Linked DNA regions of Homo sapiens: region 2 is linked to region 1. The links come from fine-mapping of genetic effects on gene expression. Tissue or cell type: whole blood. Region 1 holds a variant in brackets; the other region holds the start of a gene. All regions are shown on one strand. Distances are from middle to middle.

What was found. PIP is the estimated chance that this variant, and not a neighbour inherited with it, causes the effect.
Region 2: it holds the start of AKNA, and the variant in region 1 is fine-mapped to the expression of AKNA in whole blood (INTERVAL, PIP above 0.99).

What each region holds. Positions count from the first base shown.
Region 1 is chr9:114,649,220-114,657,323 of GRCh38, reverse strand. It overlaps TEX53 (testis expressed 53), which reads left to right. Exons shown (of 2, transcript NM_001354645.2): 2 at 692-1,020. The coding sequence ends at 795. Among named protein-coding and RNA genes, the nearest start is that of TEX53, 4.5 kb to the left of the region's middle. RefSeq lists enhancers at 3,511-3,590, 3,601-3,650, 3,478-3,984. The variant T/G (reference allele first, on the strand shown) is at 4,168.
Region 2 is chr9:114,383,345-114,391,448 of GRCh38, reverse strand. It overlaps AKNA (AT-hook transcription factor), which reads left to right and starts at 3,467. Exons shown (of 22, transcript NM_001317950.2): 1 at 3,467-3,589. It overlaps LOC124902253 (a long non-coding RNA gene), which reads right to left and starts at 3,399. Exons shown (of 3, transcript XR_007061742.1): 1 at 3,196-3,399; 2 at 2,860-3,004; 3 at 1-606. RefSeq lists enhancers at 3,175-3,464, 3,505-3,634, 3,105-3,840, 4,655-4,804, 5,575-5,634 and 3 more.

The DNA of each region.
Region 1 (8,104 bases):
ACCCTCCCTCTCTAAGCCTCAGCATCCTTCTCTCCAAAATGAGGATAACGATAATATATTGCCCACTGTGCAGGCTGTTAGGAGGATGAAGGCAGGCACCGTGTGTAAGTGAATGCATATGGCCCCACACAAAGAAGACATTCAACAAGGCCGGGCACGGTGGCTCACGCCTGTAATCCCAGCACTTTGGGAGACTGAGGCGGGCAGATCACGAGGTCAGGAGATCGAGACCATCCTGGCTAACACGGTGAAACCCCGTCTCTACTAAAAATACAAAAAATTAGCGGGGCATGGTGGTGGGCGCCTGTAGTCCCAGCTACTCAGGAGGCTGAGGCAGGAGAATGGAGTGAACCGAGGAGGCGGAGCTTGCAGTGAGCCGAGATCGCGCCACTGCACTCCAGCCTGAGCGACAGAGCGAGACTCCACCTCAAAACAAAAAAAAAGACATTCAACAAATGATATCTGTGGATGTGTATAAGGATCAGCTGGGCCACGCTGAGGTAATGAGTAAACTCTAAAATCTCCATTGCTTCACCCAGCTCGAGATCATTCTTAGCTCATACAAGCAAACTTTTATTTTTAAAGAGATTAATGATTTGAGGAGTCTCTGAGTGGAGTATGGCCAAGATAGGTTATACGCGCATCACTCAAAGCCTTTACCCAGGATAAGTTTATTCCTCTGTTCTTTCAGATCTGAACACAAATTCTCTCCACAGTGCTGTACCAAAAAGACATCCACGCCTCCCCTATGACAACCGCATGATGCTCAAGGCGTGCATCCTTAGGAGGCCATGAGCATTCTAGCCGGCGGCACCCACGTGGTCCCTGCGGCTGCACAGCTGCTGGGCTTCCATGAGGAAGAGGGCAGTGGACAAGAGTCATGAAGACTGATTCAGAAACTCCCCTGCAGGAGGAGAAGACGTCTGAGCCATCCCTGTGCCACCACCAAGAGTCACTCCAGCTTCTGAAAAAGCCACCGTGGGGGGGAGCCGCCTCCAATTAAAGTCCTTGGTCACATCAGAGGAAGTGTCTCTCCTCCTTCCCCCTTTGCCAGCCCTACCTCTGAGATTCCCAAAAACATGGAGCAATTAGACCCTGGCACCTCTTGGAAAGAAATGTGGTTTTGTCATTTTAACGCATTAACACATTTGTTTCAGTCACTCCTAACCAACCTAACAGGGAAGTGCTATATTAGGAGAGGCCAGTTTGTATAACAGGCCACTGTCATAAACGTCCAGAGCTTCAGGGCACAATTCTGCTTGCCTACTGTGCGACTCCATTTGACGCTCAGGGCCATAGGGAACAGCAGGGCATGTTGTGAAAAACTCTACAAACAGCAGCCCTAGAGTTATGCAATGCGTAGCCAGTGCTGATACGCAGCACCGCTTGTGCTGAAACACGGAGTATGCAACTGTGAGTAATATGCAGAAGACCCCACATGGTTTCCACATTAGCCAGGGAGCCAGGCATGGAAGTGTATCACTCTGACATAATAGGGCAAAAACTTGGAAAGCAAAATGACAAAGGAGCATTTTGCAACTGACTCGGGGATTAATGGAAGGCTTCCTGGAGGCGATGGTGCTTGAAGGGAAGTTAGCTAAAAGGAGAAGGGATGATATTCCAGAAGGAGGGAATACAATCAGCAAAGTTGGAAAATAGGGGCACGACCTGGGAGGGCATGAGGGTAGCAAAGTACCAAGTCTAGAATGACTCAAGTGAAAACCTGAGCCAGGGTTTGGTGGGAGGTGAAGTGGGCAGAGCATCAAGAGCTTTGTATCCAGGGAAAAGGAGCTGAACTCTATCTTGAAAATAATGGGAAGCCACAGGTGAGTTTTAAGCAACAAAGTGACACAGCCTGATTTCCAACTTTTGTACTATGAACAGTGCCTTAGTCTGTTCAGACTACTAAAATAAGATACCATAACCGGGTGACTTACAAACAACAGAAGTTTATTTCTCACAGTTTTGGAGGCTGGGAAGTCCAAGATCAAAACTCCAGCAGCATCAGTGTCTGGTGAGGGCCTGTTCCTCATAGAGGGCGCTTCTTGCTGTGTTCTCACATAGCAGAAGGGGCAAGGGGTCTCTCTCAGGCTCTTTCATAAGGGCACTAATCTCAATCGTGAGGGCTCTGCTCTCATGACCTAATCCTCCTAAACCTCCCAAAGACCACAATTCTTATACCATCACCTTGGGAGTTAAGATTTCAACACATGAATTTGGGGGAACATTAACATTCAGACCATAACAAACAAGGCGAGTTGGAAGACAACACTTTTTTTGTTTGTTTGTCTGTTTGTCTGAGACGGAGTCTTGCTCTGTCACCCAGCCTGGAGGGCAGTGGCATGATCTTGGCTGGCTGCAACCTCCACCTCCCAGGTTCAAGGATTCTCCTGCCTCAGCCTCCCAAGTAGCTACAGGAAAGTGCCACCACACCCAGCTAATTTTTTTTTTTAATTTTTTTTTTGAGACGGAGTTTCTCTTTCGTTGCCCAGGCTGGAGTGCAATGGCACACTTTCGGCTCACAGCAACCTCTGCCTCCCGGGTTCAAGCGATTCTCCTGCCTCAGCCTCCTGAGTAGCTGGGATTACAGGCACCCTCCACCATGCCTGGCTAATTTTGTATTTTTAGTAGAGACAGGGTTTCTCCATGTTGATCAGGCTGGTCTCCAACTCCTGACCTCAGGTGATCCGCCCGCCTCAGCCTCCCAAAACGCTGGGATTACAGGCGTGAGCTACCGCGCCCGGCCTAATTTTTGTATTTTTAGTAGAGACGGGGTTTTGCCATTTTGTTCAGGCTGGTCTTAAACTCCTGACCTCAGGTGATCCGCCCATCTCAACCTCCCAAAGTCCTGGGATTACAGGCGTGAGCCACTACACCCGGCCAGAAGACAATTTATTAATTAGCACTCCTTATGCCTTCCCCACCTCAGAAAAGAGAAGAATAAAGGAATATGATGTCTATGCCATGGCAATGTGGAGTAAAATTCATACCTTCAATGAAAAGCCCATCCTGGCTATAATGTGAAGGATGGATTTTGTTTTGTTTTGTTTTGTTTTTTGAGACGGAGTCTCGCTCTGTCATCCAGGCTGGAGTGCAGTGGTGCGATCTCAGCTCACTGCAACCTCCACCTCTCGGGTTCAAGCGATTCTCCTGCCTCAGCCTCCCAAGTAGCTAGGACTACAGGCGCATGCCACCACGATTTGAGTGTAATAGTAATCACAATAGACAGCCTGGTTCCTTGCTTACTCTGTGCCAGATCCTCTTCCAAGTGCTTCATAAATATCAACCCAATCAGCACAATAACCCAACAAGGTTAGAACTGTTACTACCTGATTTTACAGATTAGGGAAGTGAGACACAGGTTAAATAAATCTTTTAAGGTTTACACTAACTCACATTAAGTGCCAGAGCTAAGACTTTAACTCAAGAAACCCAACTGCAGAGTCCACACTCTTAACAACTTGGTTATGCGGCCCCTCGATAATGGTAGAATGACATTCAGTTATTACTCTGGACCCCAAATTTACTGTTCATCGCCTGCTCTTCAAAAATGGAGCTGGCCCTTTAAATATTTTTCTTTTGGTAGTTGGTGCAATGCTAGGCTCTGTCAGGAGGGGGAGCTAGAGACATTGGAGGAGGAAGAGGCCTTCCTTTCTGGTTGTGCTGGGCTCATCTTAACAGCACAGAGCTCACAGCTTCTCCAACATCACCCTCCCGCAGTGCAGGCAACTTTTCCAGAACAGGAATCCTGCAGAGGATGGTGGTCAGTAGCACTTGGCAACTAGCAGCTTCTCCTAGTGCCCCCACAAATAGGTGTGCCTCTAATCAGACACTGTTCCATGACAGCTTTCCCTGGCACCCAAGGGCAGACTTCTAGAACATTCTCCCAGACTTCTCTGCCATTGTGAGGCACAGCCATGCCCTTCCCAGCAACATCTGGATCTCAGCTGGGGATAGAGCCTGGGGGTGTTCTTTCTTAGTTCTAGGGGTGCTGGCTGCTCCTTATGTCCATTATTCCTATATTCTTTAAAGCTCTCCTGACTTCTTACCACTCCTTCATTACTCCAATCCCCTGTTCTAGTTAGTACTTATATTAATCTTCTCATATTCAAATTGTTATGTGGTTTCTGTCTCCCAAGTGGATCATGACTAATGCAGAAATCAAAT[T/G]AAGAGGCTGGGCTTATGTCTGTGGCCCCAGAAATACAGGAGGCAGAGGCAGGAGTATCACTTGAGGCCAGGAGTTTGAGATCAGCCTGGGCAACACAGCAAGACCCGATCTCTACCAAAACAAAACAAAACAAATTAAGCGACTGCCTAGGCAATCAGGACAGACAGTGATACAGGCCTAAAGTAGGGCAGCAGCAGTCAGGATGAATAAGAGGACCTTGAGTCATATTTCTCAGGCAAAGCTGGCCAATTCTAACTCAGAACCATACAGGAAAGAAGATTCTAGGGAATGAGGTCCTTGTGGTATTGAGGCCAAGTTGACAACAACAGCAGATCACTTAATTTTGGGCTATTCCAAGCTGGAGGGGCCTATGGGACATCCAGATGACCATATTAAGAAGGTTGGCAATATTTAGCAGGAAAAGGTAAAAGAACTATAGCTGGAAGGAAGCAGAGAGGCCTACAACATGTGTGTGGAGTTGTCAGCTCACTGCATCGTGGCACCTCTTCCCCATGGGATGAGACCCCACTGGCATCTGTTGGGTGAAGATACAGTTCACTTTCCCGGACCTCATGTCCAGAGTCCTCTTCCACTGCCCATTCTCATACTGTATCCCCTGGACCCACCCTCTTACCCAGATTCCCCTTGTCCTATGCATTCCTCACCTCCTCTCATGCGAAGGTCCCACTTTCCTTCCCCAGCAAACCCCATATTCCTTATTTCTTGGACTGCTTTCTGCAACAACTGTAGCAGGTGCTTTACACAAAAAAGATGCTCCTTAAATGTCACTTCCTGCTTTGATAATTTAGAAACTCCTTCACAGAAGGGATGCAAAGAAGCCTCCATCCTGTGACTTTTTTAAAGGGCTCTCAGCCACAGGGTGACATCTTTCTTTGAAGGATTTTCAAATAGTAACAATAAAAATAATCATGGAAACCACAGCTGGATTTACTTCTGATCATGGTAAACTAGCTTGTATCAGACCAACCCTCCTGCTGACAGCAGTTTAAAAGCAATTGTTCTTTTTTCTTAAATGTGTTTGAATGCATCAGAGAGATATCAACATAGTCAGGACACGAGGGGCCAAGATGCTGAAGAGAAAAGTAGAGAGAGGAGATGAGCACCGAAGCCTTCTTATCCCCTTGAGGCACCTGCCGAGTCCTAAGCAGAGTCCAAGTAGCTGAAAAGTTGAGTAGAGCTTTCAGAAGTCTCACAGCGGCCAGGCGTGGGGGCTCACGCCTGTAATCCCAGCACTTTGGGAGGCCGAGACAGGTGGATCACAAGGTCAGGAGATCAAGACCATCCTGGCTAACACAGTGAAACCCCGTCTCTACTAAAAATACAAAAAATTAGCCGCGTGTGGTGGTGGGCGCCTGTAGTCCCAGCTACTGGGGAGGCTGAGGCAGGAGAATGGCGTGGACCTGGGAGGCGGAGCTTGCAGTGAGCCAAGATCATGCCACTGCACTCCAGCCTGGGAGACAGAGCGAGTCTCTGTCTCAAAAAAAAAAAAAAAAAAAAAAAATGTCTCACAGCTTGGGGTAACAAAAATTGGAGGTTTAGGACTCACCATGAAAGAGGAGTCCTGGTTTTATAAACACACACACACACGTTTTCAGCTAAAACCCCTGTAGGGCTACAACCTGAGAGTAAGGTTTAATCACACCTAGACTAGCTCTCACAAAGCCCAGGGTCAAGTTTATCTCAAGCCTACTTTTCCCAGAAGCAAAAGTAAATCCTGCCTGAGGGAAGATCCAGAGCCTTGTATATCTCTTCAATTTTTCAAAATTTTCATTTTTCAAAATGTCTAGCATTTAATGAAAAATTACCATGAATATCAAAAAATAAGACCAACTGACTGAAAAGCAAAAGGAAAAAAAAAAGAACCAGATATTAGAGTTTGCAGACATAAACTTTAAAAGCAGTACAATTAAATATTGAGGAGAATAGATGACAAGATTGGTAATTTCATTTGAGAACTGGAAACTATTTCTAAAAAAACAAAATTATAGAACTGAACATTATGATGGATGAAATTAAAAACTCAGGCTGGGCATGGTGGCTCACAGCTGTAATCCCAGTGCTTCAGGAGGCAGAGGCAGGAGGATTACTTGAGGCCAGAAGTTCAAGACCAGCCTGGGCAACACAGCAAAACCCCGTCTCTACAAAACATTTAAAAATTGGCCAGGCATGGTGGCACCTGCCTATAGTCCTAGCTACTTGGGAGTCTTAGGTCCCAGGAGTTTAAGGTTGCAGTGAGCTGTGATTGTGCTACTGCACTCCAGCCTGGGCAACAGAGCAAGACCCTGCCTCTTAAAAAAAAAAAAAAAGATAAAAAAATTAGAAACTGGATTGATTTTTAAATGAAACATAGGGTTAACAAAAAAACTCCATTGATAGAATTAAACACAAATGAGGGCAAGATTAATGGAGAAGACGAGTCAGTAGAAAATATCCAGGCTGAATCACAAAGAACCAAAAGAATGGAAAAATACCAAGAAGGGTCTTAGAGATATAGTGAAAAGGTCTAACACTTATCATTAGAGTCCTGAACAAGATGAGAGAGAAGAGGGTGAATGCTGTGATGAAAGATATCATGTCACAGTTTCAAGATGTGCTATGAACAAGCACAAGCAGGAAAAATACTTTAAAAGCTACAGCTAGGCACATCAGAATATAACTGCTAAAACTCAATGCAAAGAGAAAATGTTGAGAGCAGCAATGGGGCTGACAGATGACTTCTCAACAGAAGCAACAGAAACCAATGACATCTTCAAAAGGTTGAAAGAAAATAACTGCACTAACCTAGAATTCCTTACTTACCAAAAATATCTTTCAAAAATAAAAACAAAATACAGACTTCTCAGCAAACAAAAATTGAATTTGTCACCATAAGATCTGTACTGAAAGGAAAATACTAAAGGTATTTCTAAATATACTATACTAAATATGATACTATATTGAAGAAAAATTCTAAAGTTAGTTCCAGAAGCAGGATCCAAAATAGATGTATGGAAATACAGAAAGGAACAAAGGGCAATAAAATTGAAGTAACAAAGAGCAATAAAAAGTAACATGTGAATAAATCTAAATGAATATTGACTATAGAAAGCATTAATAAGAATGTCTGTTGTGGCTTAAAATACATAGAAAATTGAAATCCATGACAAGACTACCGTAACAGGTAGAAAGGTGAAAGAATTGTATAGTTGTTGGAGCCAGGCACGGTGGCTCTCACCTGTAATCCCAGCACTTTGGGAGGCTGAGGCAGGTGGATCACTTAAGGTCAGGAGATCGAGACGAGCCTGGACAACATAGTGAAACTCTGTCTCTACTAAAAATACAAAAATCATCAGGGTGTGGTGGTGCACACTTGCAATTCCAGCTACTCGGGAGGCTGAGGCGGGAGAATCACTTGAACCTGGGAGGCGGAGGTTGCAGTGAGCCAAGATCGTACCACTGCACTCTAGCCCAGGCCACAGAGGGAGACTCCGTCTCCAAAAAAAAAAAAAAAAAAAATTGTGTAGTCGCTGGGTTATCCAGGAAATGATAGAAGTGATCATGTATAATACACTTCAGTAAGTCAAGGATGCTTGTTAAATCTAGGGTAAGAACTGAAAGAAAAGTATACTTCATATGCTAATAAAGGAGAAATTACCCAAAACAAACAACCTTAATCCAAAACAAGGAAAAAAGACAGAAAAAAGAAAAGAACACAGTAACAGAAAAACCGATAGAAAGAATTATTAGTAAGATGGTACATTCAAACCTAAGTCTATCAGTAAACACATTAGATATAGTGTAGTAAATACTTTGAATTAGAAAAAAACTTAATTTCAAAAAAGCAAATCTTACATGCCTACAAGGGTGAAACCTTAAATATAAGAATGTGAAAAGGTCAAAAGTAAAAGGATGAACAAAGATATACTACGCAATGAC
Region 2 (8,104 bases), 270 kb after region 1:
CCCACTTAAACGTTCTGTTCTTGAGCATCTAGTGCTATAAAGGAGAAGAAAGCATTTTGGGAAACCAAAAGGCTCTGTGTGGAACCAGGGCCTCACTATAAAATTGGAACATTGGCTTTGTGAATTGCAATTAGTTGGTAAGAAGCTCCACTCTCGATTTTATTGTGCACAGGTATTAATTATCTCTGCGGGCTGCAATGTTGTGAGCACCAAGCTTGGTTATTAGAAGCCAGGTCTTTGTGTGTTTGAAACTCTACTGCAGCTCATCACCTTTGTGACCTTGGGCAAGCTGCTTGGGCTCTAGGGGCCTCTGTTTACCCAACTGTGAAATGGGGTTGTCACATCAGCCTCATTGGGTTGTTATGAGGGCTATGAGTCAGGCTTGGGCAAGTAGCTAGGTTGAGTGGATCATCCAGGATATATTTATTGTATTTCTATTGTATATCAGGGCCTGTGTGCTGGGTCCTGGGGATATGATGATGAGAGCCTCACAGAGCTCCCAACTGAGTGAAGAGACAGATGTTAATCAAATAATCACATATGAAATATAGTTCCAAATGGGGAGTCCCCAAGGAGGGCACGCTGGAGCTGACATCTGGAGGTTGCCTAGAAGTTAACAGGGAAAAGAAGTGGGACTGGGTGAGGGGAGGAGCAGGACACATCTGTCCCAGGAAAAGCAAGGAGGCCTGTATGGCAGGAGCATGCTGAGCAAGGGCAGAGAGGGTGGTGGGAGAAGAGGCTGCAGCAGCGGCCAGCTTGTGGAGTTTCATCTTCTTTCTCAGAGCCATAGTAGCTAGCTGTGCGTCTGAAGCATGGAAGGGTCTTGTTTGGAACTTTTATCTTGGAAGACCACATCGGTGCAGTGTGGGGAACAGATTAGTGGACCCTAGAGCTTTCCAGGCAAGGCCGATCCAGGGACCCACGTGGGGATGCAGAAACGGGGACAGATTCTGGTGAAATTTAGGAAATGAAATCACTGGGAGTTGACGATGGATTGGTTATGGGATGTAAGGGAAAAGGAAGTGTCCAGGGTCACAGTTGATTCTCAGTGTGTACCTGGGTGAAAGATGGGCCAAACTAAGGAGGGGTGGGTTTGGAGGGTGGCAATACTAGGAGCTCAGTCTTAGACATGCTGCTTCGGTTTGGTAGAATTTGGCCTGTGGGTGGGGACAGTGATCCAAGAGGGGGCAGTGCATGAGCAAAGGCAGGGAGGAGGGTTGGTCATGCTTGGGGGTGCAAGGAAATGGAACAGACTGCACTGCAGGCGGTTCTCCTTGGTGTTAGGTGGCTGCCCCTGAGATGGGTTTGGGGTTATCCAGGGGCCACAGGCTATGCCCAGCAATGGCAGCCACCTGGGTTAATGCTGCCTGGGTTAATGACCAGGGAGGGAGGGTGAGTGAGTGACAGGGTGTCAGGGGAGCCCGCCCCTTGCACAATGGCACACATGGCCTCCAGAGCTGATAGGGAGGGGCCTCATTAGGGTTTGGCTCTGCTCCATGTGGGGCTGGGGGCTACAGGGAGAGCCCTGCCACCCAGATGTGGGTAAAAGGCAGGAAAGGGGATAGAGGGGTGGGCGATTACCAGGATGAGGGCTCCTGGTTCTAGCCCTGGCTACGCCAGATATTCACAAGCTGACCTTGGGAACGTCCACTCATTCATTCATTCATTCATTCACAGAACACATTCATCAGCCATAAACAGTGTGCCAGGCTTCAGGAAAGATATTAAGATCTAGCCTTTAGAGGAGACCAGAGACTTATACCTAAGTAGCAGCAATAGTTGTAGTAGCAATAATAAAATAGCTCAATACATGACTGTGTTCTGGCTCCCCCGCTCTACCCTTGGTAGGCATCATGTCATTGAATCTTTATAGCAGCCCCTGTGGGGTGGCTACTCTTCTTATCCCTGTTTTACAGATGAAGAAACTGAGGCTTAGAGACGTGAAGCCTCAAAGGTCAGGGCCAGCAGGAGATGGGGCTGGGATTTGAACCCAGGTCCACAGTGACTCTGAGATTTTTTTCTCTCCTACATGGGTGGTTCCCAAATCTGGCTGCTTATCAGAATTACCTGGAGGGCTTTTTGGACAATACAGAGGCCTGTTTTTTTTCCTCTTTCTTTTTGTTTCCTGACTCAGAGTCTCTGGGTCCTGGGTGGGGCCAGTGTTGGGAGCCTCTTGTGCTCCTGTGCCCGCTTTTCTGTGAAGCTCCTGCTTCTCCCGCTTGACTCGCTCTGCCCCGGGTACACAGGCCTTGCTGTTCTCAGGGAAAGCCCGCTGGCTCCCCCACCTTGGCCTTTCCACTTGCCCTCCCAGAACACTCTGCCCCAAACCTTCTTGTGGCTTGCTTTTGACCCCTCTTCCTTCCAGTGCCTTATTTGAATGTCACCTCCTCATAGAGACCTTCCTGACCGTCCTATAACCCTTCTCCTCCAACCCATTACTCTTGGCCCCATGTGTTCTCTACCAGGGCCAGTCACCTGGGACACTTAAAATGTCTGATGCCCAGAGACTGACTCTGTTGGCCTGGGGTGAGCCCCAGGCTTCAGTGCCACCTGGCCTGGGACACGGATCGTCACCCAGTCTCATTGTTCACAGCTCTCTCCTTGAAATTATACATGTGCTTGCTTATTGTCCATGTCTCTGCTAGAGTGGAGAGCAGGGGACTGGCCTGTCTTCGGCCCTGCCATATTCCCAGGTGATTTAAAAGCACCCGCCACACAGTAGGAGCTCAGTGAGTACCTACGAATGAAGGAATGGGATGGTGGGGCTTGAGGAAAGATAGCTCGACTGACCATCAGGATCGATCTGTTCCCAACATCTGGTGAACCCTTGGAGGGTTCTTACAACAAGGGAAAGTTTACCTGATCCGCCAGGTTCACACCTCCATGCTGCCCCGAACATCCCACTCTGGCTGCAGGACCACCTCGGGGTGAGGACGGTGGGTTGAGATGGCAGGAATCACCACGGTCTCCCTGAGATTCAGGTTGCACATTGGCAGAGTCAGAGCTGGAAGGGCAGGAGTGGTGTTGAGTCTGAGCTCTCACCGTGCACATGGGCCCTGAGGCCTAGTGAGGGAAGGAGCCTCGGCTAAGGTCAGGCCGTGGTTGAAGAGGGCCTAGAGGGTAGGAGCTACAGCATGCTGTGTGACCTTGGCCAAGCCTCTGACCTTCTCTGTGCTTTAGTCTCCCCATCTGTACCTGCAGGGCCTGGGCTGAGATGATCCCAAGCCCAGGACGTCAGGAGTTTGTTCCCTGAGTCCTTTCCTGGGCAGCGCTGACTGCGGAGGGCTTGCAAGGGGTTAAGCTCCTCCAGCTCTTGCTCTGCACGCAGACAAACCCCCTCCTTCTGACAAACACTTGTAGGAAATCAGGCTGGGCGCTTCCTGCCGAGGCGAGGCGGCCTCAACCACGGCAGGGGCGGGGAGAGGTGGGGAGCGATGCTGGTCTGTGAGCAGCAGCTTGGGCTGGCAGAACGGCCTGGAGGTGGGCCAGGGCGCAATGGAGACAGGGGGCTCCCTGGGTTTGGAACAAAGAATTCACAGGCAGGTCCCCTGAAACTGGGTCGGCAGGACGGTGGTGGAGCCCGAGAGAGGTAAGGGATTGGAACGGAGGAGGGCCCGGGAGGCCGCTTTCCTTCTGGACGGGCCAGTCACAGACTCTCCGGGACAGTCCAGGCAGCCGGACCAGCCCAGCCAGGAAGTTGCAGCTGCTGGAGCTGCACCGCTTTTCTCTTGGCTTAGGGGATCCCGGCCTCCAGGGCAAGGGTGGATTTAAGGAGGATTTCGTCAAGCCTCAGGATGCTAGATTCCAGTCCTAGCTCTGATTCTGATCTCTTGTGAACTTGGGTAGGCGGGTCCATCTCTGTGCCTGGGGTGTCGTCGTCTGCACCTGGAGAGTTAGTGTCCTTGGTTGCTAAGGGGTCTCAGAGACGATGCAGGCATGGGCAGCAGGCCAGGAGGCAGCGACGGCGCCGGGGGGTGGTCCCTATTGAAGGAGTGGCCCCTTATGCCAGCTGCGTAAGAGCAAGGAGAGGAGCCAAGGACAGTCCGAGGACCAGCAGACCCAGCTCAGCTCTTGAGGATGGCAAGACCAGAGCTGGCAACAGCCAGGGCACCGTTTCTCTTTCTCCTCGGCCTCTGCTGCTGGAGCGGGCTGGGGGCAGGGAGGACACAGAGAGGGAGTGGCTGGTGCTTCCTTGTGGGACTAGAGTCCACACAGCTGGTGGGAACCCCTTGAGAACAGCAAGTCTGTGCCCTGCCAGCAGGTGGGTGGGGGTATGGTTGAGCCTTTTTGGAAGGTCTGGTTACTGATTTGGGGGGTGGTCTTCCTTCCCCATCTCCCTGACACATCTGACAGCCTTGGTTTCAGAGTTGCGGTACCCCAGCTTTGAATCCTCTGTCTGCGCTTCCTGGCTGTGAGGTCTTGTGAGAGCAGGCCATGTCTCTGTGCCTCAGTGTCTTCATCTGGGAGGTGTCAGGGTGTGGGTGGGGGTAGAAGCAGGGTGGCACCCTGGACAGCTCTGGCTGGATGGGAAGGGGCTGCAGAGGGCACGGGGAGGCTGTGCGGGCTGCGTAGCTGTGCTGGCAAAGGAGAGCCTGGGCGTCTGGGCAGTTCTGAGGGATTGAGCCATAAAGGGAAGGGTCCCTGGCTGTGGAATGACTGAGCGGGCGGAGAAGCCCTGTGTGGGTGGTGGGGAAGAAGAGTCCATCCCACCCAGGAACTGAAGATAGACACCTCAGGGGTCTGTTAGACCCTTGAGAGAGCAGGGGCAGTGGCGGCTTGGGTGTAAGAAGGAGATGTGCAGAAGGAGGGTGCAGTGGCTGCTACTTCCTTGTGGGGCCAGTTTCTCCAGGGATGGCGGGGACCCTGAACTCCATAGCCCTCCCCAGCTCACACTGCTGGAGTCTTCACCAAACCCCACTCACTGCCTTTTAGGAGCAGCCCTGCTGCCCTAACGAGGGCTGGCTGGAACAACTCTGCCTTTATCTGGCATGCAGGGACACCTGCCCATAGCTCTCCTTCAAGGTCAGGCCATACTTTCAGACCTACGTGCCTTTGCCTCCGTGCTGTTCCCGCTGCCTGGAATGCCCTCCCCAGTCTTCTCCCCCAAATCCTCATTGTTTCTCAAGCCCACCTTAAAGCTTCCTTTGGTAACACTTCTGTATTGTACTACCCCCCACCGTTTAAAATCTTGGAACACTTTTACTCTTTTCTATATTCTTTGCATCTTACGTAGCGCCTGGTATATAGTAGGAAGTCATAGGGCTTTTTTAAAAAGTTAATTTGCGCCCACTGGGTGCTCAGTATGTATCTTTGTACTTTGAAATGTGACCTCAGGGAGGAGGAGAGAGGTTAACAGTTCTGAGGCTGTTGCCCTTAGAAGCTGAGTCAATCAGGGACTTCAAAGCTCTTTGAGTCCCATACCCTGCCTCCCAACCCACCCTAGCAGGGTGATATCCCCTTGCGATATCAAGAGCAGGTGGTACTTTCTCTATTTTACAGTGAGGAAAATGCAAGCCCAGCTATACACAGTGAGTAACAGCAGCCAGGACTAGCACCTGTCTCCTGATGCCCAGCCTGCTTCTCTATCACAGCATCGTCCCAGCCTGAGGTTGGCAGGTAGTTGGCACTAACGTGTGTTTGTTGACTGACTAGCTGACTGGCCAGTTCTGGGGCTTTGTGGTGAGGAGGGCCATGGCTCGCATGGAAGGCAGAGGCCTGGCTCAGGAAAGGCTCACTGGTTTAGGCGCCTGGGGGCAAGTGCGAAACTCTAGTCAGTCACTGCAGCTGCCTCTGACGTGCACCTTCCCCTGGTTACAGTGAGATTTCTGCCACGACTGAGTCATCCCAGAAGACAGGATGTTCCTCTTTGTGCACCCAGAGGGCTCTGTGATTGGGCAGGCTGCTCTGTGGCAGAGCTAGAAAAAAAGCCCTTTAAAAAGTCAAAAAACCGCACACCTCCCCCGGCCCCTTCCTCAGCAGAGGCTTCAGAATCAGAAAAGCAACAGCTAAATTGTAGCCTCTTCTCCACCTGCCATAACAGCAGGAGCCAGGAGGCCTAGTGAACTTCAAAGGGCAGGCCCTGCCTGAGGCCCTGGTTTAAAATGCAGATTCCTGGGCCCTATCCCAGGGCCACTGAGTCAGGCTCTCTGCAGGTTGTTTCAGGAAACTGCACGCTTAGAGGATTCTTAAGCACACTGAAGCTTAAGATCCCTGGCAGGGATTTCCAAGAAGGGTACAGGCCCTGCAGAAGGTATGAGAAGCAAGGATTAGAGCTTCTATTTAAAATATAGTTGACCAGCTGGGTGGGTGGCTCATGCTTGTAATCCCAGCACATAGGGAGGCCGAGGCAGGAGGATCATTTGAAACAAGGAGTTCAAAACCAGCCTGGGCAACGTGGCAAAACCCCATCTCGACAAAAAAAAATTTTTAAAATTAGCCAGGCATGGTGGCGCATACCTGTGGTCTTAGCTACTCAGGAGGCCGAGGTGGGAGGATCGCTTGAGCCCAGGTGGTCAAGGCTACAGTGAGCTCTGATTGCCATTGTACTCCAGCCTGGGTAACAGTGAGACCCTGTCTCAATAAAATAAAATACAGTTGATCCTTGAATAATACAGGGGTTAGGAGTGCCTCATGCAGTCAAAAATCTGCTTATAACTTTTAACTCCCCCAAAACTTTATCAATAGCCTGCTATTGACTGGAAGCTTTGCTGATAACATAAACAGTTGGTTAATGCATATTTTCTGTCTTATATGTATTATGTACTGTTTTCTTACAATAAAGTAAGCCAGAGAAAAGAAAATGTTATTAAGGAAATCATAAGGAAGAGAAAATCTACTTACTTTCATTAAGTGGAAGTGGATCATCATAAAGGCCTACATCCTTGTCATCTTCACATTGAGGAGGAGGAGTTAAGGGGGAGATTGATCTACTGTCTTAGGGGTGGCAGAGGCAGAAGAAAATTCACATATAGGTAGACCTGTGTGGTTCAAACTGTCATTAAGGGTCACCTGTATATATTTTCTTTTTCCTTTTTATTTTTAGTAGAGACAGGCTTTTGCCACGTTGCCCAAGCTGGTCTCAAACTCCTGAGCTCAAGTGATCTGCCCACCTCGGCCTCCCAAAGTGCTGGGATTGCAGGTGTGAGCCGCTGTACCTGGCCCATTTTCGATTGCATCTTTTTAGAAGATCACTTTTGAAAATACTCTTTCCAATACATGTAATATATTAGCGTGATGTGTTCGAGCAAATATATTTTTACTGATGGATTGTGTGATTAAAAAAATATTGGGGTACCACTAGGCCAGAATTGACAGTTGCAAATCTTGCTGTGGCAGGAAGTAGCTGGGTGATCTTAGCCAAATTCTACCCTCATGTTTGTAGGAGGGCAGATTGAGAATTTAAAAGTAAAGCTTCAACCCAGGCTGGCGCCGAGTGGGCTCTTCACATGTGGTAGGGACTGTGGGGCTGGAGGACAATACACAGGGTGATCTGGAGGAAATTGTAGGGCTCTGCATTTGGGGGTAGAGAGGAAGACTGGGCGGGGACAGAGGATAGAAGCCCCGAACACCCATCCACAGAGCAGGAGTCGCAGCCAAGGAGGGAAGAATGGTATTCCCTGCACCTCCCTCCTCCAGCCCTTGAGAAGTCAGCCTTTCCCGGGCTGCACTGTTCCCTGGGGAACTTTGTGTCCAAAAATAGTTGCCTGCTGACTTTTCTCAGCCACACAAATCAAGCAGGATCCAAGTGTTCATGAGGATAAAGGGACAAACACAGACCTTCTGTCCTGGGAGGCCTGGAGTCATACTGCCTTCAACACAGCATGCAGGGGAGAAAGCCCAGACTGTGGGCCAGGAGGCTGACTTTCACCCCTGCCTTGTCCTGACCCCTGTGTGGCTTTAGGCAAGGCCTCTCCCCTCTCTGGATCCCAGTTTCCCCATCTGTGGAAGAAGGCCTTTGTGTGAGCTGCTCTGGGGGCCGCTGCACTGATGGGCTGCAGTTCTCTGAACCCTCCATGGCAGGGAGCTCCCTGGGGGACCGTGCCCACTCTGGGTCAGCTTTGCACTTCCTGGGCCTGGCTCAGTGCTGGCATAGAGGAAGCGCTTA